7 linked regions of the Homo sapiens genome follow. The protein of the gene in region 5 interacts with the protein of the main gene of each other region in a pairwise test. Each region holds a gene or a part of one and is shown on either strand. Other genes may lie near its edges. The genes, in order: JPH3, CACNA1C, HTT, CFTR, CALM3, IQCN and DAPK1.

Region 1 (4,167 bases), on a different chromosome or scaffold from region 5:
ATGGAGTCTCGCTCTGTTGCCCAGGCTGGAGTGCAGTGGCATGATCTCAGTTCACAGCAGCCTCTGCCTCCTGCGGGTTCTGGAAATTCTTGTGCCTCAGCCTCCTGAGTAGCTGGAATTACAGGCGTGTGCCACCATGCCCGGCTAATTTTTGTATTTTTAAGTGGAGACAGGATTTCACCCTGGTGGCCAGGCTGGTCTCGAACTGATAACCTCAGGTGATCCACCTGCCTCGGCCTCTCAAAGTGCTGGGATTATAGGTGTGAGCCACCGTGCCTGGCCAAGAAACTTTTTAAAGAAAAAGTTTGCTCAACAGATAAGCTGAACCCCAGTCAGCAAAGGGCTTTGTAAACTGTCCTTGGGATGCAGCTCAGAGAGGAGGGTCCTCAGAGGGTGAGGTGCTGCCTAGGGGGCACCTGCAGCCACAGCAGCACCAGGCCCACACCCTCCGCAACCTCCCAGCCTATCAGGGACCTGAGGCGCAGATGGAAGTGGAGTTGTGGACACAGCAAGGGCCTCCACTCAGCCAGAGAGAAAGCAAGCTGCCCTGAGCCCAGCTTTCCGTGGCATCGTGGCCTCAGGCAGGTGTATTGTGAGTCTTGGGCCCCATGACAACTTGGTTGGGCCGGGCCAGCCTGCAGGGGGCAGAGAACAGCCAAGGGCCCAGCCCTGCCCACTGATGCCACCCCTGGTGCAAAGTTCCCCCACCCCAGCGAGGAGGAAGGGCCGGATGCTAGTCAGCCTGTAGTGGGGTAGCAGGACAGAGTGGGGTGGTCAGTGGCACCTCTTCTGCCACAGTCCAGCCCGTGCTCTGGGCCGGGAAGCAGGTACGGACGCTGTGGGCGAGGGCGTGGCTGCCCGCAGGAGGGAAGCTTCTGTCTCCCCAGCCATCCTCCAACCCTGGACCCCACCATCAGGTCATATCCATCATTTCACCAAGAGGGAAACAGCCAGGGCCAGAGTTCCTTCACCAGTAGAGCGGTAGGGAGAACCTGTGCTTCCATCCTAAGGGACTTTACCCTGAATTGCCAGGGCCCTACACGGGCCAGAATCCCAGGCCCATCTGTGGCCAGTGGGACCCTATGTGGGCTAGAATCCCAGGCCCATCTGTGGCCAGTGGGACCCAGGGCCTCTGGCGTGTGAGCTCTGCAGCATGTTGGGAATGGTGGAGGGGGATGGCCAGAAGACAGCACCCCAGACCCTGCTGGTGGCCCAGGGGAGACACTGCAGAGAGCTGTACCCCTGTGAGGGGGTGGCACTGAAGGCACTCAGCCCAGCCTGGCACCCGACTGCCCTGACACCTGTCCCCTGACATGGATGCCGGCTGGCACGGGCCCCTCCTGCTTCCCACCAACAGGGCCTGGAACAGTGCTTAGGATTGACCGCGCCTCTACACACCATCTCCCCTCACAGACCTGGCAGAAAACACAGCTCCAAAGCTGTGGGGAGGGAGACGGGGAGGGAGACAGGGAGGGAAACCTTGTTTGCACCAGCACCAGGTACCCCAGGGTGGCCACTTCCAAGGAGCTCAGCTGGCATCCTCCAGGGTGGGTGGGACATGATGCTGCAGCTGACGGGACCTCCAGATTAGCCCCAGCTGGAGACCGGGCAGGACCAGGGCAGCATGTAGCACCCTGCGTGTCGCTAACTCATCCCAGAGGCCAGCTTGGCACTTGTCCCCAGCTTGTGCATTGACCCCCAGGGAGGTTCATTTAAAAGCACCCAAAAGTGTCAGTGCATTAAGCAGGCTAAAAATAGAACCCGTCCCTACACCTCCCACCCTGCCCACTGCTTGGCTGTTCCTAAAATAACCGCGCGCGCACAGCCACGCACACATCTCCGGCTGCGATGGGGAAAATCAAGTTGTAAGTGTGAGCTGGTATTTTGGTCCCAGCAGGAGCATAGGGGCTGTTCTCTGTGGGCTTTGGGGAACGGGGAGGCATCTTAGGAACCCAACAGGACAGACAGACGTCCGCAGTGGTTCCAAGGAGAGGCAGAAACAGGCATTGCCGCCCGGCAGGACGTGCCCCTTCAAAGGGGTGTCACGCGGTGACCCCTCTGGGGGTGGGGCTGGCAGGAGGAGAAAACCACAGCTCCCCTAGGTCAGGGGCAGGGACAGACACCGACCCCTGCCGCAGCGTCGACAATAAACCTACCAATGGTCCCCCCTGCCCGGCCCACACGCCCTGAGCGCCCCCTGCGGACACCCCCCTGCGTCCTCACACCCGAGGGGCAGACTGGCTTGCAGCACTTCTGTTCAGCACCACGCACTGCCTGGCAGCCACGAGCGAGCAGAGCCCTGCTGGGGTGAGGGCCTGGCCGTGCGCAGATCCTATGTAGCCACCGTCCCACAGCCCTTCATTCCCAAAGCCCTTCATTCCTGCAGCACTGGTCAAGGGAGCAGGGTGGGATTTGCAGAGTGAAGGTCCCTTCAAGGGGAGGCCAGCCCTGTGTGAGGCACCAGGACCCCCAGCCTCGCACACCGAGTCTAGCCTGGGACCCCCAGCCTCGCGCCGAGTCTAGCCCAGGGGGACGCTGTTCTTCCCTCCAAGCTGCCTGCCCTGGAGGAACGAATTTGGGGGGGGGGTGCTGGGTGAGGCTGACGGTGAGTTGCACACAGCGGGCCTCACGTGGGAGCCGGCTCCAACCCCAACACCCCCCATGGGTGAGAGAAACCTGGACTGGCAGCTCCCCCCAACCCCAGACCTGACTCCCAGCCCCAGGGCCAGCCTTGCCCCCAGCTGTTTCGCCTCTGGGTTCCTATCCAGGACACAGGACACTCAAGCGGTCATCTCACGGCCCAAGGCTACTGACCAGGGGCACAGACTCTTGGAGCAGCTGGGGTTGAGCACGTTGCGGGGAGCGCAGGGATCCCATGCTGCCTGGAAACCAGGAGTTTCGTGTGCTTTCTGGACAACCTGGGGGCAGCCTCTCACGGAAAGAGGTATGACACCTGCCCCACCTGGCTTCCTAGGGGAGGGTCCCAGCGACCTGAGGGCCACCACTCCCGGCTGTACCCCCACCCTACTCCACCCCTGGAGAGGAACAGGGGAGCAGTGACCTTGCTGGAAACCCTCAGGAAACACCAGGTCAGCAGAGAGGTGGATGTTGCCTCCACTGGGACCAGCCTGGTGGCCGCCCACTCACCGTACTGGACTTGAGCTCATCCCCATTCTCCTCGTCGGACTCTAGAGCGACAGGCAAGGATTTCTGGGGCGGGGAGAAGGTCAAGTCCCAACGCAGCAACCGGGGCTCGGCCCCGCCCAGCCGCAGGCTCGCCAGTTTCTGCACGGCGGGCTCCGCGGAGGAGGCCGGCCTGAAGTTCTCCTTGTTCTGGGCCTTGGACCGCAGTCTCTGCACCCCGAAGCCCCGGTCCTCGGGGCGGTGGTCGTCCCCCAAGCCCCGGCAGGCGCCGCCCTTGCTGTAGCGTCTTTTCTGGGGATGCGTCTCCATCCTCAGCAAGGGTTTCATCTCCATCCGGTAGTTGCTCAGCTTCTCCTCCTGCAGCTCCAGCAGCCTGGAGCCTCCGGGGCTGTGGTTGCTGGCCCGGTGGTGGGAAGTCCACGTGAACACGGGGGGTGACTCCGTCCGCCGCTCCCGCGGCTTGGGGTTCCCGGGCTGCTTGCGGCCCGAACCTCGGGTGCGGAAGTCATCCACGAGCAGGCCGCCGCGCAGGGCACCGCTGCGGACACCCCTGGAGCCCCCGGCCTGCTCCTCGCCCCAGCTGCTGCGGGCGCAGTCCCCGGCCCGGCCCTCCAGGAGCATCTGGATGTCCCCGCCCCGCTCCTCGTCCACCGACACCTGCCTCGAGAAGTGGGCGACCTTGTTCCTGGCGGCGGGCGCGGGCGGCGGGGTGGCCGCGGGGCTGGTGGGGAAGCTCTGCAGGGGGCTGTCGTCGGGGGTCAGGTCGGAGGGAGTGGTGCCCTTGCGGTACAGCTCGGGGCTCTCCTGCTGCAGGGGTGTCCCGGTGGACAGCACCTCGATGTCGTCACAGGAGGTCTGACGCTTCGGCCTCTGGTACTCCAGCCCTGTATGGGGACACAAGACGACGCCAGACGGCGTTACCCAGCACATTCCACAGCGAGGCCGCGGTCCCCGGGCCAGGGCGCCAGAGGGAACCTCAGGGCAGCAGAGGCGCTTCCCACTCACCGAAAGGCTGCAGGCAAG
Region 2 (4,167 bases), on a different chromosome or scaffold from region 5:
TAGTTTTTCTTTGGCACTCCTGACCTTCCTGATGTGTTATATATGTATGTGTTTATTATCTGTCTCTCCTCACCATGATGTGAGCTCATGAGAGCAGAAGCTCTGTTTCTCAGCTGTGTCCCTGTACCTAGAACAGGGCCTGCACATGGTAGGCGCTCAGGGAAGGTCTGTGAAATGAATGCAGGATGATCGAGGCCACAGGAATACCAGACTTTGAGAGGTAAACCTTGGAAGCCACCTGGTTTAACGCCCCACCTCCTGCACCACAGCCTGACGCCCGGATGAGCACAGTCTCTGCTTGGCTATGTCTGATGATGGGGGGCTCACTACCTTTCAGGCAAGCCCCTCTCATCTTGGAAGAGCTCATTTGGGAAGGTCTTCCCCATGTGAGCTGAAATCTGTCCGCTGGTGGGCTGAGCCTGCCACCCTTTCCCCATCCCACCCGTTGCAGGTGTGAGAGGTGTATCGCACCCTCCAAAGTCACCTCCTCTCCAGGTTTTCTTCCCGAATTCCCTGAAACGGTTCTCCTAGGAAATGGTTTCTAGGAACCTTGCCATCCTGGTCATCCTCTGTTGGGTTTGTTCCAGTGTGTCAAAGGTCCCTAATAATGTGGTGCCGGGATTGCACTAGATGCTCTGACCAGGCAGAGCACAGTGGGACTGAAAGCTCGCTTGTTCTAGGCTAGTGGCTCTCAACCTTGCTACACGTTAAAATCATCGAAGAGCTTTAACAATCATCAGTTAATCTGTCCCGGGTTTCCAAAGCTCCCCAGGTGATGCTCACGGGCAGTCAGGCCTGAGCACCTTGGATCTTGCCTGTCTGTGTATAAAGGCAGCCAGGCTCACATTTGCATGTCGAGCAGCTGCAGTATAAGGGATAAGTTGCTCAGTGGTTTCTGCCGCCCTCTGCAGTGGGCCCAGCCTCAAGAGAGCCCATAGCATCTTGTGCAGTCATGGCTTTCCGCACACGAGCCCTCCTGCAGCCCTGAGAGGGAGGGTCTTTCGGGCTCAGATATTGACTGCAATGAATTTGGCAAGAGCCAGGTGCTCCCTTCTCAGCCCCGCATGCCAAGTCCCCTTGTTGCCCGTGGCCTCTCCCCCCTGCCCATCTGCGAGTCACCTACCGCTTCCACCAGGCTGCTGGCACTGCCGTGGAACTGCCTCCCTGGGGCCCCAGCCTGGCTGGGCACCATGAGGGAGACGGGCCGGACTCTCCGGGCGGCGCTGCTGCCCCCGCCACCGGGGGTGGTCTCAGCCCAGGAGCCGCAGTGGATGGATGGGAAGCTGCTGTTGAGTTTCTCACTGGACTCGACCCCCTCAAGCCGCAGGGTGGGGACGGGCTGTGGGGGCCAGCCTCGGCTGCCAGGTGTGGCTGGTGGGGTGGCAAAAGGCCTAGGGAATGAGGCAGGGGAATGGCTTCTCTGGAGGAGGGGGCTCAGGCCTGCCACTGCCAATGCCTGCGGACACACAAGGAGTGTGAGTTAATAGGAGTGGCCGACCCCAAACAAGGCAGGCCCCTGCTTCTGAGCAAGCACTGCTTTGCAGCTGCTGTGTCCAGCTAGCTCCACCTGCCTGGTATTCCCATGCCATTATTTTCCCCTGTCGGTCCTATCTCAACCTGGCATGACTTTCAACTATCTCAAAATACATCTTAGGATCATCTGGGTCTGAAGTGATCTCTTTCTCCTGTAACTTCTGAAAGCTGGGATTGGGTGAAGTCGTGGTAACCTGCTTTTAGCCCTGGCCTGGTCACCTGTCAGCTGTGCATTCTCTCGCTCTTGGTTTTGTCCTCAATAGAATGGAGAGCAGGGTGAGGCCTGCATGTCTGTAAAGCCAGAAAACGAATGCTGTCTATCCATCTGCCCTGTGGGGCTGGTGTGAGGCTCAAGCGCAATGAGGTCTGTGAAGAAGCGCTGTGCACCTCACAAAGAGTTGGGAAAACCAGTATTTGTGGTTTTAGTTCTCACAGTTAATGGGGCCATTCATAATGCCCTGCCAGTCTCTAGCTCAGGTTGTCTTTGAGCCATTGTTAAATCCGGTGCTGTATTGTGATTAAAAGATTCAGGGCTGGGAGCAGTGGCTCATGCCTGTAATCCCAGGACTTTGGGAGGCCAAGGCGGGCAGATCACCTGAGGTCGGGAGTTCAAGACCAGCCTGACCAACACGGAGTAACCCAGTCTCTACTACAAATGCAAAATTAGCCAGGCATGGTGGTGCATGCCTGTAATCCCAGCTACTTGGGAGGCTGAGGCAGGAGAATCACTTGAACCCGGGAGGTGGAGGTTGTGGTGAGCCGAGATCGTGCCATTGCACTCCAGCCTGGGCAACAAGAGCAAAACTCTGTCTCAAAAAAAAAAAAAAAAAAGTCACACGGTACGCCCTCTGTCCCTGAATATTCTTGAGCATCCTGAGGGTAGGGACCAGGCCTGTCTGGCTGTTGCCATGACAACCTGCCAGGGCAGAGGCTCTGCAGGGTGAGCTGCTCTGATGGGATGTGCTCCCGGGAGAGAGCGACACTGTGGTGGGGAAAGACCACCTCTAGGGTCACAGAGTACAGGAGGAGAAAGAGATGAAGAGGAGAGTTTCGTGCCTACCAGTACGACAAGAACAGATAGGTGAAATCGACTTCTAGAAATCTTTTAAGATAGCACACACAGTGTCCCCACATCCTTCCACCTCCTGCCCCTGCCCATGGTGGTCCTCAGCCTGGGGCTCCTGGGTCCCTGGGAATCTGAGAAAAGTGTAAGGCCATATTCATTATTTCAGAAAGCCCAGTGGAAGACAACACCACACAGGCTAAGAAAACCTGTTTATTTTTTGGAGCTGAAGTACTATCAACTCAGCCAGGCCACACTGGCCATCTCATGCTGATTATGACTTTTGATTGGCAGTTGAATGCCTTTGGGTACAAAGCATAGGTCTATTTAAAACATAGGTCCATGCTATAAAAGAGTATAACTTTAATAAGGTCAGAATGTTGGGAAACCCAGGTTTAGACCTCAGTTTGCCTGGGGTTAATAGACTGGCCTTAGATAACACTGAAGTTCAAAGATACTAAGGCATGTTTGGTCCTGGCATCTTGGATTTCACTGTCTCAGCTGGAGTCAGCCATGCCAAGAGACATTTCATTTATGGAATCTCCCTGGACCTGCTTCCCACGGATGTCATTCCCTACTCTTGACCATGTTGCTGGTGGGTTCTTTAATCACTTCTTTATGTCACTGGATGGATTTTTGTGTGGCAAAATTTCCAGGTATATTCAAACTCTAGGTACAAGTACATCTTCCTGAGTGCCCTGAGGCATAGGCCAGTGTCAGAGGCGTCAGTGGCATCTGTGGCAGCCTAAGAAGAAAGCTCAGGTGGAACCTGCAGCTGTGGGTCCTCAGGATCACACAAAGAGCTCCTGTGCACCAGCACTTCCTAGGCCCCCACCTGCGATGCTGCAGACCTTGCCGTGGCCCTCACCTGCACAGGAGTGTGAAGCCCTACAGGGATGGCTCTTAGGGCAGGGGCAGGACGTGCCAGCCATCTGAGACAGGCAAGACCCACTGAAGTCTTCAGGATTTGTCCGTCACCCTGGGGACTGTCTGGCCTGCTGGCAGGTGACAGTGGCCTGTCCAAAAGTGTGAGCTACCTGATGATGAACCAGATGCAAGGGCAGGACTGTCTTCTGAGAGATGTCTCCCCCTCGGTCCTTCTGTCGCTTCAGACATTCCAGGTGGAAGGAGGCCCTTCGACCTGCAAAGCCAGCCAGAGAGCCACCATCAGGGCAGGAAAACAGGGCACTGGCCTGTGACAGTTTACACCCTGGTGGGGTGCCAGGAGCAGTAACTATGGCCCGAGACGCTCCTCCTTTCCCCTCCCCTCGTCTGAGACGTATTCTGGTGTCCAGGGCTCATCCCTGCACACCCTGCCTTTGGAATGTTGTCTCCTTGCTTTGGAAATGCCCCACTGTGTGGGGCTGATTTGAGGCAGGCCACAACGATTTCCCAATCATCCCTGACCAGTGTTCTCTAGGGAGTAACCGCCGACCACATCCAGAGAGCGAGCGGTGCATTTACCTAGTGAGGCAGAGCGGAGGAAACCCCTCTTCGGAGATTGCCGGATGTCCCTCTTGTCCTCCTCTGGGAGCGTCAGTTGCCGATTTTCGTCATCCTGGTAGGAGAGC
Region 3 (4,167 bases), on a different chromosome or scaffold from region 5:
TTAACTGAAGGTACTAATAACTGGATTATATGAGGGTGGTTTTGGTTGTATAATCCTATCTAAAAGAATATTTTAGCTATAACTGAAAGTAAGACTTAAATATTTAGAGAGGAAAATCTGAATAATTCTAGTAGTAATTATTTATTTACAAAATAAAAATAGATTTTTTTTTGATTACACAAATTAAACAACAATAAAACATCACAGCAATCCGGATACTATAAAGCTCACATGCTTACCGACCCAACTGCCCCAGGAGTGACCACTGCCAACAGCTTCATGTCGACCTTTTTGCCATAATTTTTATATAGCCTTTTTTGTTTTTAAATGGTAATTTAGAAAGTCAACTAGGAAAATGTGTTACAGGTTTATCTTCCAGGAGAATAGGACTGGAGTCGAGATCTTGAATGTGGCTTGGAAGAAGGCAAGCCCACCCCAGAGAGATGAGTTGACAGTTGTTTCTGACCACTGCTTGCTTAGAGGGCCTGCGTGTCTGTGACCGCCTAGCTTTGCGCCCCTGACTAGGCTGCCCCTTAATTACAAATGTCTTTATATATTGCTCCAGCTAAGGCTTGGAGTAGTCGGTTAAGAACTTGAACTTCGGTTTTTGCAGTGAAACAGCATTTGAGAATATCACCTTCTGATAAGCCTTATTTTATAAGGTGGGTACTGTAGTGGGAGGCAGTGTGAGAGATGCTTGAAGGATGCACTGCTGTCCTGCATTTCAGCATCTTCAGGATGCTGTGCAGCTGAAACATTTGATAACGGTGGAACTGTTCGTTATTTTGCAAGCCTGTGATTCCCTATTGAATGTTTTCTCTCGCCATTTGACAAATGAGTGTTTCTCTGTCTTCAGCCTCAGTGAAGGATGAGATCAGTGGAGAGCTGGCTGCTTCTTCAGGGGTTTCCACTCCAGGGTCAGCAGGTCATGACATCATCACAGAACAGCCACGGTCACAGCACACACTGCAGGCGGACTCAGTGGATCTGGCCAGCTGTGACTTGACAAGCTCTGCCACTGATGGGGATGAGGAGGATATCTTGAGCCACAGCTCCAGCCAGGTCAGCGCCGTCCCATCTGACCCTGCCATGGACCTGAATGATGGGACCCAGGCCTCGTCGCCCATCAGCGACAGCTCCCAGACCACCACCGAAGGGCCTGATTCAGCTGTTACCCCTTCAGACAGTTCTGAAATTGTAAGTGGGCAGAGGGGCCTGACATCTTTTTTTTTATTTTTTATTTGAGACAGAGTCTCACTCCATAGTGCAGTGGAGGCCGGGCACAGGGGCTCATGCCTGTAATCCCAGCACTTTGGGAGACTGAGGCAGGCGGATCACTTGAGGTCAGGAGTTCGAGACCAGCCTGGCCAACATGGTGAAACCCTGTCTCTACTAAAAATACAAAAATTAGTTGGGCGTGGTGGCACATGTCTGTAGTCCCAGCTGTTAGGGAGGCTGAGGCAGGAGAATTGCTTGAGCCTGGGAGGCAGAGGTTGCAATGAGCCGAGATCGTGACACTGCACTCCAGCCCGGGCAACAGAGCAAGACTCCATTTCAAAAAAAATAAAAAAATAAAGTGCAGTGGCTCGTTCTCAGCCCACTGCAACTTCTGCCTCCCAGGCTCGAGCGATTCTCCCGCCTCAGCCTCCTGAGTAGGTGGGATTACAGGTGGGCACCACCACACTCAGCTAATGTTTGTATTTTCAGTAGAGACAGGGTTTCACCATGTTGGCCAGGCTGGTCTCAAACTCCTGACCTTAGATGATCCACCCACCTTGGCCTCCTAAAGTATTGGGATTATAGTTGTGAGCCACCATGCCCGGCCCTGCCACCTGCCATCTTTTGAGTTCTTCCCTGGAGACCTAGACCTGAACCCTCCTGCTTGTTCTCTTGTTATCTAATACCCCTATTGACAGCGCAGCTTAGATCATTAATGGAGAGCTTGACCTCATCTGATACCTTCACTGAAGGAAACAACTTAGTGTCTTTTGTGTTGAACACTGAGGTAAAAAATTGGAATAGTTGATTATATGAACTCTGCTAAAATTGAGTGCATTTTACATTTTTTAAGGCCTTGTTGGGCCCTGGTTAAATAATTATTTTTAAAAATCCTTAAGGAGCCTATTATAAACAGATCTGTGGTCTTAATGAAATGTGATTAATACTGTGCATTATTTTAAGAACTTTTGACTTTTCAAAAAACTTTTACAACATTTCCCATTTGATAGCGGCATAGGTTTAAGCACTTCTCATCTCTAAGTTAGTGGACAAAAAACCCTCATGGATAGTCTAATAATGTTTGCTACAAGTCCATGTTGAGTTTTATACTCCATTTTATTTTCAGTTTTAAAAACTGTGGTTAAATATGTGTAACATAAAATTTATGTTCTTAACCATTTTTTGCGTATACAGTTCGCTGGTATTAAATACATTTAAATAATGTCATGGAATCATTGCTACCACCCATCTCTGTAACCTTTTGATCATGTAACACTGAAGCTCTGTTCCCATTGAACTCTATTCCTCCTTTCCCGCCAAGTCCCTGGCAACCACGATTCTTCTTTCTGTCTTCTGAATTTGACTACTTTGGGTTCTCATATACTTTAGGAGTCACACAGTATTTGTTTTACTTAGCATAATGTCCCCAAAGCTCATGCATGTTGTAGCCTATGTTAGAACTTCCTAATGTTTCAGGCCAAATACTATTCCATTGTATGGATAGGCCACATTTTGCTTTTCCATTCCTCTGTCCATGGACACTTGTATTGCTTCATGTTTTAGCCATTGTGAATCATGCTGTTATGAACGTGGGTGTACAGATAGCTCCTGGAGACTCTGCTTTCCATTTTTTTGGCTAAATACCCAGAAATGGAGTTGCTTTTACATTCCAATTTTAATTTAAAACATTCATATCATTGAGTGTTTTACTTAATAGTATAGTAGTTAACAAACTTAATAAAATAGTATTTTGGTAATAATTTGCTGGTAGTCCATTGTTCAGTTTTTTTAGGTAAATTACACAGGACATTTCAAGTGGACATGAAACATCTTGTGATGTGGAATCATGCCCCAAGCTGATGGCTAAACATATGAAATACCATACCCTAAATTTAGTAGATTTAGTCTTTGCAATTTAGGAGATAACCTGTTATATTGTTAGGTTTTTGTCGAAAAGCTTTGTCCTCATATTTCCAACTTGCTGTAAAATTTGTTTGTGAAGACAAATATTTTTGTATGGGTTTTTTCTTTTTCATATTAAAAAGAAATGTCCACATTGGAATTTTTTTGGAGTTTTTAGAGCTAATAGAGCTTTTCATAATGTAGTGGGAATGAGTGATCAGTAAGCTCTTAGCAGTTTCCATGCGTGCATTTCTGTGCCTTGAAATAAATGACAGATGAGTACATTTGTGTTCTGTGTGTAAAATGTGCTCTTTCCTCATTGCACTTCCATGTTGGAGGGCTTGTCTCTTGGTGATCACACTTCAAAATTCTCACAGCCCCCCTTGAACCGTTTAGGTGTTAGACGGTACCGACAACCAGTATTTGGGCCTGCAGATTGGACAGCCCCAGGATGAAGATGAGGAAGCCACAGGTATTCTTCCTGATGAAGCCTCGGAGGCCTTCAGGAACTCTTCCATGGGTATGTGGACTACAGGTGATGCGCTACAAAGTGGTTTGTATTCAGACCTGGACATCTTAATTATATCTTTGCTTCCAAGAAGAAGTCCTTTGATACTGTTTTCTGAGTTCTGAATAGCTGATGAAAATGACCAATTGAGGAATAATCATACTTTTTCTTGATCTAAATCTTATACTTTTGAGTTATCTTAGCATAAATGTATAATTGTATTTTAAGTGGAAATTTGTCACTTAATCTTGATTTCTCTGTTTTTAAAGCCCTTCAACAGGCACATTTATTGAAAAACATGAGTCACTGCAGGCAGCCTTCTGACAGCAGTGTTGATAAATTTGTGTTGAGAGATGAAGCTACTGAACCGGGTGATCAAGAAAACAAGGTGAGGGACATAGGCTTGAGACGACTTGGTGTTTCTGAGCTTGTGTGAGGATTTAAAATCGCCCTGGCTACTGTCTACTTTATTGCTTTCCCATCCCTGGGCCTTTAAATTTCCCCTTTAAATACCAGCTCTTCCCAGGCCTGTTGTTTTC
Region 4 (4,167 bases), on a different chromosome or scaffold from region 5:
AGCCATCATAATCATGTAAGTCAATTCCTTATAATAAATTGTGTGTGTGTGTGTGTGTGTGTGTGTGTGTGTGTGTGTGTGTATCATTGGTTCTACTTCTCTGGAGAACCTTGACTAATATGCAGAGTAAATACTCAATGAATTTTTGATATCATAATAATACTGTGCCATGTAAAGATAAGGATAACTCATTGTACTGACGAGAGTAGCTGAGGTTCAGAGAGATTAAGTAAATTGCCTAAGATCACATTGTTAATAAGTGACAGAGTTAGGATTCCAGCCAGGTCTGTCTGATTCCAAAGTACATGCTTCTTCCATCATATATTGCTACCTGACAGTTGACAATGAAGATAAAGATGAAGTAGAATATGAGATCATTTTCTAAGGATACAAATGGCTGGAATGGGGACACAAGGGAAGATCAGGAACAACCAAGATGGGGGAAGAATTAAGTCAGTGGTTTTCACACTATGAGCCCCAATACCTAGTGTTCTCTAGAAATATTTCAGTGAATTCACCAACTTCTGATTTGAAATGTATGTATTTTAAAATATTATTTTATAGACAGGAACCAAGAAAATCACACATTCTCAAATGTAGGACTATATGTTAATTTTAGCACACTAGATTGATCCGAACATGATCCTGGGCTGTCAGGCTTGTTTAGTATTCACTATGTAGGAAAGCTTCTGCTGACATCTCCTTGCACATATTTAAACCTGTTATGATCTGTTATTGGTTATCTCTGCACTGCATTAGTGAGCATGTCACTACACCATATGTGGGCCAAGCTCAGTTAACAGCCCATCATATCTTTGACATACCTGTTTGCATGAGGTTTCATCACAGCATAACAGAGTTGTACAACACTCAGGGAACAATAATAAGCCACATATGATATTATCATGGTTTTATAATACTTTATCATGCGTACTTGCTTTAAGGTGATATTGGTTATAGAATTTACCATCAATTTAACAATAGCCTTTCCAAAAAGAAGCACTACATTAACTATACACAGTTTTTAGAAATTAACAATATTACATACTTATTCATGCAATCACCTACCACTTTCTTCTTCAGCATCGTAATTAAAGTTTTAGTCTAAGCGTTCTTCATATTCAGAGCAAAAATATTCTTCTGAGTCACTCTCAGCCTTTCAGAGCTATGAATAGAGTTACAGTGACAAACTGCATTCATAACACCTTCACCTGTAGGACAGGCAGTATAATTTCAAGGCATAATAAAGTGCTGAGCTTAGGCGACTTCTACTTTAATTACATTGCTTAGTATGTCAGACAAACTTCAGACTAAATATTACCTGTTTTTTTTTCAAAACTACATCACAAAGTAATTTATCCCAAGAAATTTCAAGCAACAAACTAAATTTATTTAAGAGTCAACCTTGTGGGATGCAACCAATGCAAATAATTCAGCTGAGGTCACAGGAGTATATATACCTTTATGTATTGCTAAGTTCCCATATTACAACTTATTCCTGGGCCTTGTGGCTGACAAGTTTCTTTTGACATCAATTATAAAAGGCATCTCGATTTCAGAAACATAACACTGTGAAAAACACAACCATGTAGGATCAAGAAAATTACATATAAATGTTATACAAAATCACTGTAGCCTTTACTTTAGAGCACTAGGTTAACTGTTTCTTTGTATTTATGGGAGAGTTATTATCTTTTATTGTCACTGCTATTTGTATACACTGCGGTCCCATGGAAAATTTTATTTGAAAATTGATTACAGTATTGTTTTTTAAAAAAATTGTGAAAAACATTGCCCTGGGAAAATGCAAGACACAAGATAGATAAGATAGAGCCTTTGCCTTGAAGGACACATTAAAAGATGCATATTCCAAAAAAAGAGGCAATGAAATGGTCAACAGAGACTTATAAGTCAAAAATTATTCTGGACAATAATCTAATAACTGTTAAGCTACCATTTTCTTCTTCTGAAAAGTCCATTTTGCATGTCTAAATGTTTCACTTACTTTTAAAATTATTCAGTTACCGAAAAAAAGTTATAGAAGACTTAAAATTTTTTCTAGATTTTATTTTAAACTAAGAAAGACTAAAAACTGTATCTTTTAAAGCATATTGCAATAGAATTTAAATAAAGAATATTTTGCAACATGTAAAAGTTATATGAAATTCAAATTTTAATGTTCATAATAAAGTTTAATTGAAACACAGCCATGCTTATTTGTTTGCATATTGTCTATTGCAGAGACTTATGTGGCCCACAAAGCTGAAAATATTTACTATCTAGCCCTTTACACAAAAAAGTATAGCAATGGTCTTTGGTCGAAAAAGTGATGCTTTTGTGTTGGTATTGTTGTTTTAATTTCTAGAGTTTATAGAGATGTTTAAAATAAATAAAACGTACAAAGGGAGCCCCCTATATAGTTTCTCCACCTTGCTTCCTCTAGAACTGTGGTTGCTAATCCCAGCCAACATAGGCTTCATTTTCTTGTCACACCCATAACCAATGCTGGACTCTAAGGTTTAGCCCTTGAATCACCTCTTAATACAGCTGTCAGTACCCCTGGGATTCTGCCTATTATGCTTAATTTTCACACATTTGTCTGACTGGTATCAAATGAAATTCTAGAGTCCCTTTTTGAAATTATTAAGCCTTCACTAGGCATTTGGGAGTAGATGTGAAGTCAGGTAGGAGGTAGTTGCACCTCTGTAGTCCATGCTAAGAAAGAGAACTCTGCATATTTAACAAAGCTCAAAGTTTTAACATAAAACAAGGATACATAACCTTTTCAAAAGTAATGAAAACCTTCTTTTAACACACACAGAAACCTCATCATAGTAGGTGAGCTCCTATTTTTATTCAATCACTGGAGACAATATCTGAAGTCCCAAGCAGATTTTCATACCACATTGAATTTCTATGATCTCTCATATGTTGTGTCCCGTGATGTGAAAAGCACTGCCTAAAGGAGTGAAGTTATCAGGAGGTTCAGACATCAGTTAGCAGGTTATATAGGAGAGTTCTAAGTATAATTTCTAAGTAGAATTTAACCAGTACTGTCCCTAGAACTCAGCTGCTTCTTCCTAACACTCTCAGGTCACACTATGCCACAATAAGGCCAAACAAGTGGGCACTCTACATATTTATAAAACTGTCACCTCAGACATCTTATATCTCTTACCTAAGACTAAGCTCTAAATCACTTTAATACATTTTCAAATAACCATATTACCTAACCCTGAGCCATATACATCATTTCCGTTTCTGGTTTTGAGAGAAGTAGAGTCACATAGGTCTGCACTCCTGCTCCATGCCTTCTTCTCCGATTAAATTTTCTCATTCAATAAGCAGCACCACTGTCCCCTCTATTATCCAAATCAACAAATATAGATGTTATCCTTAACTCTTCTCTTTCCTTCACCTTCAACTACTAATTGATTACCAAACCAGTTGATTTTACCTCCTAAATGTCTTTCAAATCTCTCTCTCTCTCTCTCTCTCCCCGCCCCCTCCCCCCCACCCCACCCACCTCCACCATGGCCACTCTTTCAGCTCATCTTTTCTTTTACAAAACTGCAACAGTATATGAACTGATTATGTCCCTCTCCTGTTTAAAAGCCATGGCTTTTCACTTCCAGTATGATAAAGCCCAAACAAAGCCTACAAAGCCTACAAAGCCCCCTTACGATCTGGCCCCTGCTAGAGTTTCCAGACCCATCTCCCACAAATCTCTGTCACATATTTTATGTTCCCGTCATAGGGAACTTCTCAGGATATTTTGAAGGTGCCATGCTTACTTATCCTGTCAGTCCTCCACACTACCTGTTTAAATTTTTCCTAGCCCATCCCTACCCTCTTTGGATAATTCTAATTGAATAACCTCCTTTAGGTGTGAATACAAAAGACACTTCCCCCAGCAAGCCTTCCTTGACCAGCCTTAGACTGGGTTAAGTGCCCCAGTTGAGTACTTCAATGAAGCCCTCGAGAAAGCTGGGTTTCAGATAATTTGTTCCATAAAGGCAGCAACAATTTCCTTCTTGGCCACCTCTACCTTCTTAACGTCTCACATAGAATACAGAATATGAATGAGGTCATCTTCCAGGTTACCCAGAATCATGACCTACAAAGGAAGTACTGCTGTATCTCAGCTCCTTGGAGCAAGCTATGGGA
Region 5 (4,143 bases):
GCTATTTTTCTGGCCAGCCAGTGAAGACAGTGGGGAAAATGGTCTGACAGCTGTCCTTAGATGATTCTACATTTCTGTTTGGTCCCTGGCTTTGACTTCTCCCTTGAAATGATGAAATGAACCAAAGTCATGGAGTGAATGAGAGCCGAAAGGATTCTTTGTCTGAGTGTGTTAGCCAGGGTTGGCTGGCTGGGACGAGGAGGGGAGGCTGCAGAATGCCTCTGGCCGGCCTGAAGAGGAAATGCAGGCATCCACTCCCTTCTGACTGGCAGCCCTGTTCCTTGCCGTGGGTGCTACCAGCTTCCAAAGGAGCTGAGCCACTGCGTGTGGTGAGCGTGGGGGTGGTCGGCAGCAGAACATGGCTGACGGACAGTGCGTGGGGTTGATGGGGGGATGGAAAGCGAGGGGACGGCTGCCAAGCCAGGAGGATGAGGAGCTAGCAGTGCTGAGTGGGAAGGCCACAGCTGGGGCCGCATCAGGGGCAGGGAGAAAAGCACATGGCTCTTGCCCTCCCACTGGGCCCATTTTGGCACCTGGTGCTCCTCTACCCCCAAGCCCTCCAAAAACAGATGTCCGGCAGCCTATTCCCAGAGGGTGTGGGCTGGGGTGAGGCGGTGGACAGTTTGCTAATGGGGACAGGGTGAAAAGCAGACCGTTTATGTTGCACAAGGCCAGAGTTGGGAGATGGGTGGCAGGTGCATTGGGAGGGACATGCACAGCTGGGAAGCTGTGGCCCTGAGCCTCTGGGCCCTGGGGACATGGCAAGAGTCTCTTTGGGGAGGCTGGCACCTCCCTGTGCTGAGGCCTTGTTGTTCTTGGGGAGGGCAGGTAGTGAGTGGGTCATGGGGCACCCCGAGCTCATGATCACTAAACCAGGCCATCTTCTGGCTTTCCTCAGGGGTCTCCATAGCCACCCAGGGCCAAAATTTTGAAGCTGCAAAGGTGACTCTGTGATGCGGGTTGAGGGGAGAAAGGAGAGAAGGCAAGTCCGTTCCTGCCTCCCACCGCAGAAGCTGGGCCTTTAGTACTTGTTACACAGCCGGTTGAACCTGACAGCAGAGCTGGGGGCTGGGTAGCTGGTGGGGAGCAGAGGCCCATTCTCTGGATCGCTACTCTGGTCTACTGTGTGCTGGCCCCTGGCTATGGAGATAAACCAAGAGTTGCTCTCTGTCCTCGGGCAGCTCAGTATGGGCGGGTAGGCAGGCACGGATCTGTAATTACACAATAGTTCCTGTAGCTGACCCTTCTGGGGTTTTGGAGGGGTTAGAAAAATGAATTAGATGGGATCCAGGGATTTCTTCTAGCTTGCTGAGAGAGAGATGTTTGTTTAGCCAGCAAAAGTTTGCGGAGGACCTACTACGTTCTAGGCAGGCATTAAGGCTATAGCAGGGACCAACAAAACCAAGTCCCAAACTCAATGGAACTCACATCTAGTAACAGGAGATACAACAGGTGAAGACATAAGAAAATAATTTCAGACAGCGAGAAAGGTTATGAAGAAAATAAAGTGATGTGAAGGAGAGTAAAGGAAGGCTGTGTACTTGAGATGGGGGTCAGGGAAGGCCTCCCCGAGGGGACATCTGAGCTAAGGGACGGGAAGGAGCTGCCCATGCAAAGCACTGGGGAGGCACTTCCGCCAGCAGAACAGGCAGGCGCAGGCACATGCGAAAGGAAGTGCAAAGCGCAGGCAAGCGCAGAGGTGGGAGTGACGAGCCAGCTCCTGGGCGGCTCCTAAAGTGGGACAGGAGCTCTGCAGGCCCCACAGGGAGGCAGGGAGCTCACCTTCTAAGCCAACCTGGCTGAAGCTGGGAGAGAGAGTTGGGCTCGTCCTGCAGCCACTGATATCAAGCCCCTAGATGACCCAGGCCCAGGAGAGGAACACAGCCTTTGGTGTCTGGTAAAGGCCTGTCTCAGGGCCATGGGGCTTCGTGTCATTGGGGCACTGGTGTGCTCTTACACACATTTATCAGCATTCTAGGCACAAGGCATAGTGTTAGGTGACACAAGGGATACACAGGTTCACCCATCAGATGTCACTCCTCAGTGGCTAAGATTTGGCTGGGGATGTGGAGGCTTTCCTGAGCTAAGATGAGGGGGATAGCAGACTCACCTGCAATCTGCTCCTCAGTCAGCTGGTCAGCCTGTAAAAGCATGAAGGGGAAAGTCAGTCACCAGGCCGGACAGCACGGACGCATCTTCCTCACTCAGCCCAGACCCTCGGCCCCAGTGAGGCCAGCTCCACGTGCCATTCCCGCCGGGCCAGGGAGGAGCATGCCAGAGTCAGGGTCTGAGGCAGAGCCAGCGCCTGATGATAAAGTCTGGTGATTCAGAAAGCTGGGTACCAGGGTGGGCTGGACACTCAGGCCTGCTGGACGCACGGCCCGATGAAGCTGCCCAGACCCACGGGCTTCCAATCTCAACTCAGCATGTGGGAGCCACAGGGGCGGGAGAAAAGCCTGCCCCAGCCCCAAACCAGCAGCGCTGGTGAGGCCTGGCACAGGTTTGCATCTCATCAGTGAGAGCCCCAGAGGCCGAGTGAAGGGAACGATTGCCCTGGAGGCCTCATCAAGAAGCTCTAGAAGGCTCCAAACTGAAGCAGGCCAGTCCTTGGGTAGGGCAGAGGGACGATGTCTGGGGCTATCTCTGCTAGTTTCTGTGTCACCTATTTGGAGGCGGTTGGCTCAGGCAGAGTCCACCCAAGTGGCAAAAATTCTCCTAACCGGCGGCCCGAGTTGCTCAAGCACCTAAAGAACTCTGGTCAGGCTGGAGGCAGGCGCTCCACCCCCTGCGCACAGTGAGGGCACAGGGCCATTCTGTTTTGTTTCTTTTGGGCAGAAGGGACAAACGTCAGGGAGAGGGCTGCAGCGGGCAGCAGCAGAGGACTGAAGCTGGCTTGCACTGCAGTTTTTAACCCTTTCCAGCTTGGGCACTCTGGGGACTGGCCAGTGGGTGGCAGGCAGCCCTTGCTGCATGCGGGGTTTGGGGGTGGGGAGGAGATGCGGGGACTGGCTTCTCCTGCACTGGTGTGCTGGGCATCAGCCAGGCATAGTGATCCTATGGGGCAGGAGCGGGGCTGGGGGGTTGGGGAGGCTGAATCCCAACATTTAGCTTTAGCAGCCAAAAGACACATTTTCCCTGGTTTTTGTTGATGCTGTGAAGAAGGCACCACCATCCCGGGACCATGGTGGGTCTGTTCCCCTTCCTTTCACAATCAGGGAAAGGGGCTCCAAGTCTATAGCATGTTCTAGTCTCGAGTCTGAGAGCCTCAGAAATAGAAGCAGACTATTATGTGAATTTGCAGTATTCTACGGAGAGGTTCCAGAAGCTAGGAACAAACCACTGCCTGCCTCCCCTACCCCCATCCCCGTCCCAAATATTAACAATCACTGATCTAAAAAAGTTAGAAAAAAAAAAAAAAAACCTAACGGAAGAAGAACTTGCAAGCCCCAAATAGGCAGAATGGGAGGGGTAATCAAAATGATGATCACAGAGGGGAGAGGGCTTAGGGAGGGGGAAAGAGGAAGGGAGAAAACGGCACACATGCACATTCTGGAAAAGTCCAAAGTGTAAAGGGGAGGTGGGGAGGCCAAATGAAGATTCTTCTGCATTGCCTTCAAAAAAGACAGGGTGGTTGGGCTTCTAAATGCCAACCTGGTAGCCCCAGGCCCATGAGCCTCTTGATCCACCTGCCCCCCACCTCCCACCATGGACAAAAAAGCCTGGAGCCATCCCTTAGGTCCTGACACCTGAGGAAGAGGCTTAGGGAAAGTGAGAAGGGAGGATGGGCTTCTGGTTACCGAGACCAGGCAATGCCCAGGGAGGGTCAGGGAAAGAACAGAGAGGAGGGCAGCAGTGTGGGGAGGTGGCTGCCATCCCATCTGCTTTTCATTCTTTCCCCTGGCCTAGAATGGAAAAAGCGAGCCAGGTCAGGGCCTTCCCAGCCCACTGTTCCGCCCTGCAAGAAGTCCAGCTCCCCGGACCTTTGGGCAGCACTGTAAGGGGCTGGGGGTGGGGGCGAGGAGGCTGTGACAGGCTGCAGACTGCCCCGAGCGGCTCTGAAGGCCACCGTTTGCCAGTCTCCACCAAAAGACTGGAAGATGCAGATGAGGCACTGCCATGTTCAGTTCTGTCACAGGGTTGCTG
Region 6 (4,167 bases), about 28 Mb from region 5:
TTCGCTCAGTCACCCAGGCTGGTGTGCAATGGTATGATCTCAGCTCACTGCAACCTTTGCCTACTGGGTTCAAGAGATTCTCCCGCCTCAGCCTCCTAAGTAGCTGGGATTACAGGCACCTGCCATCATACCTGGCTAATTTTTGTATTTTTAGTAGAGACAGAGTTTCACCATGTTGGCCAGGCTGGTCTTGAACTCCTGACCTCACGTGAGCCACCCACCTCGGCCTCCCAAAGCACTGGGATTACAGGCGTGAGCCACTGCGCCTGGTTTTTTTTTTTTTTTTTTGAGACAGAGTCTCACTCTGTCGCCCAGGCTGGAGTGCAGTTGCGTGATCTCGGCTCACTGCAATCTCCATCTCTCGGGTTCAAGTGATTCTCCTGCTTCAGCCTCTGAAGTAGCTGGGATTACAGGTGCATGCCACTGTGCCTGGCTAAGTTTTGTATTTTTAGTAGAGACGGGGTTTCACCATGTTGGCCAGGCTGTTCTCGAACTCCTGACCTTGTGATCCACCTGCCTTGGCCTCCCGAAGTGCTGGGATGACAGGTGTGAGCCACCATGCCTGGCCTCCCAGGTTACCTTTTATCTTATACTTACTCTTTAATCACAATCTTTTTTTTTTTTTTTTTGAGACAGGGTCTCAGCCAGGCACCGTGGCTTACACTTGTCATCCCAGCTACTTGGGAGACTGAGGCACAAGAATCACTTGAACCTGGGAAGCAGAGGTTGCAGTGAGCCGAGATTGTGACGCTGCACTCCAGCCTGGGCAAAAGGGTGGGACTCTGTTTTAAAAACAAAAAAGAGATAGGGTCTCATTCTGTCGCTCAGGCTCGAGTGCAGTGGTGCCATCGTAGCTTACTGCAGTCTCAACCTCCTGGCCTCAAATGATCCTCCTGTCTCAGCCTCCCGAGTAGCTGGGACTACAGGTGCATGTCACCATGACTGGCTAATTTTTATGTTTTTAGTAGAGACGGGTTTTACCATGTTGCCCAGGCTGGTCTGGAACTCCTGGCCTCAAGTGACCCACCCACCTTGGCCTTCCAAATTGCTGGGGTTACAGACGTGAGCCACTGTGCCCGGCCTATTTTTTTTTTTTTTTTGAGACAGTTTTGCTCTTGTTGCCCCAGATGGAGTACAATGGCACGATCTCAGCTCACTGAAATCTCTGCCTCCCAGGTTCAAGATATTCTCCTGCCTCAGCCTCCTGAGTAGCTGGAATTACAGGCGTCAACCACTATGCCTGGCTAATTTCTTGTATTTTTAGTAGAGACGGGGTTTTACCATGTTGGCCAGGCTGGTCTCGAACTCCTGACCTCAGGTGATCCACCCTCCTCGGCCTCCCAGAGTGCTGGAATTACAGGCGTGAGCCACGCCTGGCCAATTTTTTTTTTTTTTTTTTTTTTTTTTTAAGAGACAGTTCTTGCTTAGTTTCCCAGGCTGGTCTCAAACTTCTGTCCTCAAGTGATCCTCCCATCTTGGCCTCCCAAAGTGCTGGGATTGCAGGCAAGAACCACTGTGCTCAGCCTGGACGCCATTTCTGATGCCTGGATATCATGCCCTTGTATGATTAATTTAAGCCTGTCTCCATTGATAATTTTGGTTTCTTCCAGTTTTTCCTCTGCTAAACAATACAGTGTTAAACATCCTTGAACATACTTCTGTATTCATTTGTAGCAGAACCTCTACCAATCACTGTTTTGGTTATTTCCAGTTGTTTTGTTTGATTTCTAGCTACAAAATAACACTGGAATAAATTTCCTCATCTTTGCACATTTTTTTTTTTTTTTAGAATTTAGCTTTTTTAGAATTTAGAAATTTTAGAATTTAGCATTTTTGCTTTTAACATTTCTTTTTGTGTTGGTCTTGAGCCAGCCCAGGGCAGTGTTGCTGCATATTGCATGGATGAAAGGCTGAAGGCTGCCTCCTCTTGCAGGCTGGCTTCTGAGATTGCACCTTCTTCTCCTGCTACTCCTCCAAATCTATGACCCTTCAAGGTAAGAAGATGGTCTATGGGCAAGGGGTCTGGCTAGTCCAACCTGAAGAGAGGGGCTTCTGCCAAACAAGTGTGCTGTGCTCCAGGCTATGCATCAGGGTGGCTTGACAGTGTCCCAGCTCTCTCTGCATCCTAGTTACTTCTGAAAGCCACAGTCACCACTTTTTCTTCCTTCTTTCCATCCTTCCATATGCCATTTACCTACCCATCCCCTAATCCACCCACCCACCCATCCACCCATCAGTCTACCTCCTGTTGGGTTATCTCTTCACCAGTCTTTCCAGCTCTCTTTAATTTCCCTCCCTCCCTTGCTTCCTTCCTTCTTTCCTTTTATTTGACACGGAGTTTCACTTCTGTTGCCCAGGCTGGAGTGTGATGGCGTGATCTTGGCTCACTGCAACCTCCTCCTCCCGGGTTCAAGCAATGCTCCTGCCTCAGCCTCCCGACTAGCTGGGACTACAGGCTCATGCCACCATACCTGGCTCTTTTTTTTTTTTTTTTTTTTGAGACAGAGTCTTGCTCTGTCACCCAGGCTGGAGTGAGGTGGCGCGATCTCGGCTTACTGCAACCTCTGCCTACCGGGTTCAAACAATTCTCCTGCCTCAGCCTCCTGAGTAGCTGGGATTACAGGCACGAGCCACCATGCCGAGCTAATTTTTGTATTTTCAGTAGAGATGGGGTTTCACCACGTTAGCCAGGCTGGTCTCAAACTCCTGACCTTGTGATCCGCTCACCTCGGCCTCCCAAAGTGCTGGGATTACAGGCATGAGCCACTGTGCCTGGCCTACTTTTCTGTATTTTTAGTAGAGACGGGTTTCACCATGTTGGCCCGGCTGGCCTCGAACTCCTGACCCCAAGCAATCTGCCCACCTTGGCCTCCCAAAGTGCTGGAATGACAGACATGAGCCACCGTGCCGGGCCAATTTGCCTTTAACACTTTATTCATCAGCTTTATTTACCTATTCATCCAAACCTTCATCTGTCTTTCCAACCCATCTACCATTCACTCATCGACTGATTCATCCATTCAGTATCTAGTCCTGTATCTATCTGTCCATCCAACTTCCAATCCACTCACCATTTATCAGTCAAGATGCCCCCCCCACCCAATACCTACCCATTCACAGCTTGGAACCAAGCTCTATGACTGAGATGGGGACACAGAAATGACTCTGTCTTCTAGGATTCACAATCAATGGGGAGAGGCAAATAATCTCCCCCACCACACTTCTCTCTCTCTCTTTTTCAAACACACACACACACACACACACACACACACACACACACACACAGAGGCAAACAGGAAATTTCCAAAACATTGTGATCAGTGCTAAACCCAGGGTACATCCAAGATAAAGTTTGAAAAGCAGGCCGGGCGCGGTGGCTCACACCTGTAATCCCAGCACTTTGGGAGGCTGAGTCAGGTGGATCACCCGAGGTCGGGAGTTCGAGACCAGCCTGGCCAACATGGTGAAACCCCGTCTTTACTAAAAATACAGAAAAGTAGCCAGCCAGGCATGGTGGCGTGCACCTGTAATCCCAGCTACTCGGGAGGCTGAGGCAGGAGAATCGCTTGAACCCAGGAGGCGGAGGTTGTGGTGAGCCAAGATCACAGCATTGCACTCCAGCCTGGGCAACAAGAGCAAAACTCTGTCTCAAAAAAAAAAAAAAAAAGAAAAGAAAAAAGAAAAGCAGGTAAGTGGTCGGGCATTCAGGTGTCATACACTGTGTGCCAAGATGAAGTGGCCGTAGGGTGATGAGAGGTGGATATAAGGATGGCAAAGACCACTTGGGAGAGGGAGGGATGGAAAAAGGGAGGCGGAAGATCGCAACGTGCCAGGAACAAGATCTGGGCCTGGGGGGCCAGTGTCCACCCCAGCCAGGAGACCTCTTGTTTGCAGGACCTGCTACACCCTGACCACCCCCTGCCGCCCCCACAGGCAGAGCTGACCTGTCCGGTAATCAAGGCAATGCAGCCGGCCGCCTAGCTACAGTTCACGAGCCAGTTGTCACCCAGTGGGCGGTGCATCCTCCAGCCCCCGCTCACCCCAGTCTCCTGGACAAAATGGAGAAAGCGCCTCCACAGCCCCAGCACGAGGGCCTCAAGTCCAAGGAGCATCTTCCGCAACAGCCTGCCGAAGGCAAGACGGCGTCCCGCCGCGTCCCACGCCTCC
Region 7 (3,301 bases), on a different chromosome or scaffold from region 5:
TTCCTTCAGAGTCTGTGCCCGGAAGAAGTCCCGTGGCTGGTAGATCATGACGGGCTCATGGTGCTCCCGCAGCTGCTGGGGGCTCAGGTAATGCTTCACGGTCAGGAGCCCTGGCAGCGTGGTGGCCATGACGTTCTCAATGGTGCTGCACACCGAGTCCAGCAGCAGGCAGCACTTGATCTTCTCCGTCTCCAGGCCGCGGACCTGGACCTCAATGCCCTGGCCGTGGTTGACCAGCAGCACCAGCAGCTCGGCCCCACGGTTGGCCAGCTTGCAGCCATTCACCCACAGGCGGATGTCCGCGTCGCCCTCTGTGCTTTGCTGGTGGATCCACCGGCACAGGTTCACCTGGACCTTGTGAAAGATGCCACATGGGAAGGGGGTGAGGTGTTCCACGGGCACGATGCGCACGCCACCATACACCATCACCTCGTCCTCCTCATCAGCCCAGGAGCGGTGCAGGTTGTCTGTCTTGATCAGGGCTGGGACGTCCACCATGGTCCCGCTGCTCAGGTCCCGGGCGCAGATGTCCATGGCATCGAGGATCTGCAGCAGCTCCTCCACGTCGCTGTCGGGCACCAGGCGCTGGATGTCCTCCACGGTGTAGCGGCCCCGGTAGTGGTGCAGCGCCCGTGGGGTCTCCACGGACAGCAACTTCCCCAGGACGTTTGTGCAGAGCCAGCGGGGGTCCAGGAGCAGCACGTCCTGAACTGTTTCACTTTGCATGATGTTGATCTGCGGGGGGACAACAGAAAGTCACGCTTAGGGACAGAGCCCTGGCCAGGTGCACCAGCCACTTAGAGCACTAAAGGGCCTGATGCCGGCAACAGAGGCTGAGCAGATGCTCTAAGGAGTGACCCAAGGCCATTCCACGTGGATGCGTCTCAAAAACCAAACACCGAGTGGAGAAAAGCAGCTTGAAAATGTCAGAATAGAGATTCTGAAAAACAACTCCCCTGAAGTCTTCAAAAAGGCCAGCGAAATGAAAGAAGAAAAAAAAATGGGAGATGGCAACCAAATGCAATGAGTGATTTTAGACTGGATTCTGAATCCCAAAATAAGTACATAAATAAAAATAGCTTTAAAAGAAATTATTGGGACCAGTGGCAAACCCTTGTATGAGGATGATATATTCAATCATAGTACTATATTAATGTTATGTTTCTGGAATCATCAATTATATTGGGTTATGTGGGAAAATATCCTTCTCCTTAGGAGATATAGGCTAAATTATTTAGGGAAGAAATGTCATCATGTCTGCAAAATAAATAAGTAAATAAATAGAAAGGAAAGGAATCGAGCAAATGTAGCAAAATGTCAACAACTGATCAGCTTAAATGTAGTAGGCTGGGCACCGTGACTCATGCCTGTAATCCCAGCACTTTGGGAGGCCGAGGCGGGTGGATCACTTGAGGTCAGGAGTTTGAGACCAGCCTGGCCAACATGGTAAAACCCTGTCTCTTCTAAAAATACAAAATTTAGTTGGGTGTGATGGCTTGTGTCTGTAGGCTGAGGCAGAATCACTTGAACCCAGGAGGCGGAGGCTGCAGTGAGCCGAGATTGTGCCACTGCACTCCAGCCTTGGCAACAGAGTGAGACTCTATCTCAAAAAAAAAAAAAAAAAAATTAATTAATTAATTAAAAAAATAAATAAATGTAGCCTATATGAGAGTTCATGGTACTATCCTTGCAACTTCTCTAAAGGCTTGAGAACATTTTCAAAAAAGAGTCAGAACATTCTATTATTATACCATTATGTGAATGTTTAACACACACACATAGAAAAGGCCTGAAAGGATATGCTGCCATGATAATAGTTGGCCTCCGAGAAGGGGAGAGAGGAGTGAGACCAGAGATGATGGCCCAAGGGGACTTTAGCTTTTTGGTTGTGTTTATTTCTTAAAAAAATAAAAAGAAAGGAAAAAAAAGTGACAAAAAACAGAAGGAACTTTCCCTTTATGGAAGAGTTCTGCTTCCTTTCTTGGAGAGTGGCCATCGCCCTGGACTCCCTCACTTGGAGGCTCTGACCCCACCGGTGACCACACAGTAATTTCCTGCCCACAGTCTGGCTTAAACCTGAAAGATGCCCCCTGTCTAAGAGTCTATTCAGAATTGAACCTAGGTTGAAAATTCCTGGAGGGCAGAGCCAATATTGATCTAGTTCCTGATACAGCATTTGCTGGAATACCATTTGCAGTTTGGTCCTAAACACTGCTCATCGCCTCAGGCTCAGGAAAGACGAAACTGTCCCATAGTGGAGGAGAACAGGGAGCTAAGACAGTCAGCTAAACGTAGTGTGGGACCCTGGGCCAGAAAACAGAGTCAGAAGGGCCACTGGGGAGTTCTGAAGATCTGCAAATTAGATACGGAAGGCAGGTCTGGAGGAGGCCCGGGGCCAATCAAAGTCGGGCCACACAATGTAGTTCCTGCTGCCTAATTACCCTCCTTCTTTACATCTTCATTTACTTACTAAACTCTCAAGGGCAAGCAGGGATGTAATGACAAATAAAGGAGACTATATGATATGATCTAGAAAGTTGCTGGTCTACTACTAGAAAGCAAGGGACTCCTGTGCCAAAGGAGTTTAGAATTAGAATTGACACATTTTTTACATCCAGCAGTATCTTGTCATCTAAGATGTGGTCCTTCACCTGTGTTCTTCCTTGGATTCAATCACTTTAAAGTATTCCTGGATGAGTTGGCAGATTCTCTGGCCATTTAACTGGGAGTTTAAAGGCTGATGAAATTACTGCCCGGCGACTCCAGTTTTCAAGGTCACTGGCTTGTGGATTCAGGTTTAGTTTCAAGAAATTTGTATGACTCATACAAACTGGCTATAGGGCCAGACCTGGCACCTGAGATTGGGGAGGTAAGCATCTGGCTTTTAATAATCTCAGAGCTGCTTTTAGTTGCAATATTCAGAACCGCTCTTCTTGGCCCACACTAGTTCATGTAGGCTCCCAATTTCACATGGTGGAGAAACACGAAGGCACTGCCCCCGTTCCTGGGACAGGCATATGATGCCATTAGAACAGGGTTTCCAAACCGCGCCCTGGTGCTCAATGTCACAGAACCAGAGCAAAGCCTCCCATTCTCAATCATTTCTGCTGGGCATTGCTTGCTAGAGTTTTTTAATGTGCATCTTTAATTATGATTACTCTGTGTATCTGTGCACCAGAGTTCTCTGTCTTTGTATCTCCAGACATTGCCTCCACAAGGACACCTCACTGCCTTTTCTCAACTGTTTTCCCACCCAGGAGATCTGTGTGGAGCTGATGACTCCACGCTGATACAAAGAAGC

What was found.
Region 1: the proteins of CALM3 (region 5) and JPH3 interact in binary tests that used the Homo sapiens proteins (3 or more experiments, as listed by UniProt).
Region 2: the proteins of CALM3 (region 5) and CACNA1C interact in binary tests that used the Homo sapiens proteins (3 or more experiments, as listed by UniProt).
Region 3: the proteins of CALM3 (region 5) and HTT interact in binary tests that used the Homo sapiens proteins (3 or more experiments, as listed by UniProt).
Region 4: the proteins of CALM3 (region 5) and CFTR interact in binary tests that used the Homo sapiens proteins (3 or more experiments, as listed by UniProt).
Region 6: the proteins of CALM3 (region 5) and IQCN interact in binary tests that used the Homo sapiens proteins (3 or more experiments, as listed by UniProt).
Region 7: the proteins of CALM3 (region 5) and DAPK1 interact in binary tests that used the Homo sapiens proteins (3 or more experiments, as listed by UniProt).

Annotation. Positions count from the first base shown.
Region 1 is NC_000016.10:87,689,507-87,693,673, reverse strand, and holds part of JPH3 (junctophilin-3), read right to left. Parts: intron 4,029-4,167; coding exon 3,148-4,028; intron 1-3,147. UniProt on the Homo sapiens protein: Junctophilins contribute to the formation of junctional membrane complexes (JMCs) which link the plasma membrane with the endoplasmic or sarcoplasmic reticulum in excitable cells.
Region 2 is NC_000012.12:2,685,736-2,689,902, reverse strand, and holds part of CACNA1C (voltage-dependent L-type calcium channel subunit alpha-1C), read right to left. Parts: coding exon 4,061-4,167; intron 3,738-4,060; coding exon 3,634-3,737; intron 1,457-3,633; coding exon 1,124-1,456; intron 1-1,123. UniProt on the Homo sapiens protein: Pore-forming, alpha-1C subunit of the voltage-gated calcium channel that gives rise to L-type calcium currents. Mediates influx of calcium ions into the cytoplasm, and thereby triggers calcium release from the sarcoplasm.
Region 3 is NC_000004.12:3,126,408-3,130,574, forward strand, and holds part of HTT (huntingtin), read left to right. Parts: intron 1-856; coding exon 857-1,197; intron 1,198-3,516; coding exon 3,517-3,640; intron 3,641-3,897; coding exon 3,898-4,016; intron 4,017-4,167.
Region 4 is NC_000007.14:117,486,228-117,490,394, reverse strand, and holds part of CFTR (cystic fibrosis transmembrane conductance regulator), read right to left. Parts: intron 1-4,167. UniProt on the Homo sapiens protein: Epithelial ion channel that plays an important role in the regulation of epithelial ion and water transport and fluid homeostasis. Mediates the transport of chloride ions across the cell membrane.
Region 5 is NC_000019.10:46,603,825-46,607,967, reverse strand, and holds part of CALM3 (calmodulin-3), read right to left. Parts: intron 2,142-4,143; coding exon 2,111-2,141; intron 145-2,110; exon of another isoform or gene 1-144. UniProt on the Homo sapiens protein: Calmodulin acts as part of a calcium signal transduction pathway by mediating the control of a large number of enzymes, ion channels, aquaporins and other proteins through calcium-binding. Calcium-binding is required for the activation of calmodulin.
Region 6 is NC_000019.10:18,267,293-18,271,459, reverse strand, and holds part of IQCN (IQ domain-containing protein N), read left to right. Parts: intron 1-1,868; exon of another isoform or gene 1,869-1,872; 5' UTR 1,873-1,981; coding exon 1,982-1,994; intron 1,995-3,894; exon of another isoform or gene 3,895-3,933; coding exon 3,934-4,167. UniProt on the Homo sapiens protein: Essential for spermiogenesis and fertilization. May be required for manchette assembly in elongating spermatids.
Region 7 is NC_000009.12:87,703,566-87,706,866, reverse strand, and holds part of DAPK1 (death-associated protein kinase 1), read right to left. Parts: intron 736-3,301; coding exon 1-735. UniProt on the Homo sapiens protein: Calcium/calmodulin-dependent serine/threonine kinase involved in multiple cellular signaling pathways that trigger cell survival, apoptosis, and autophagy.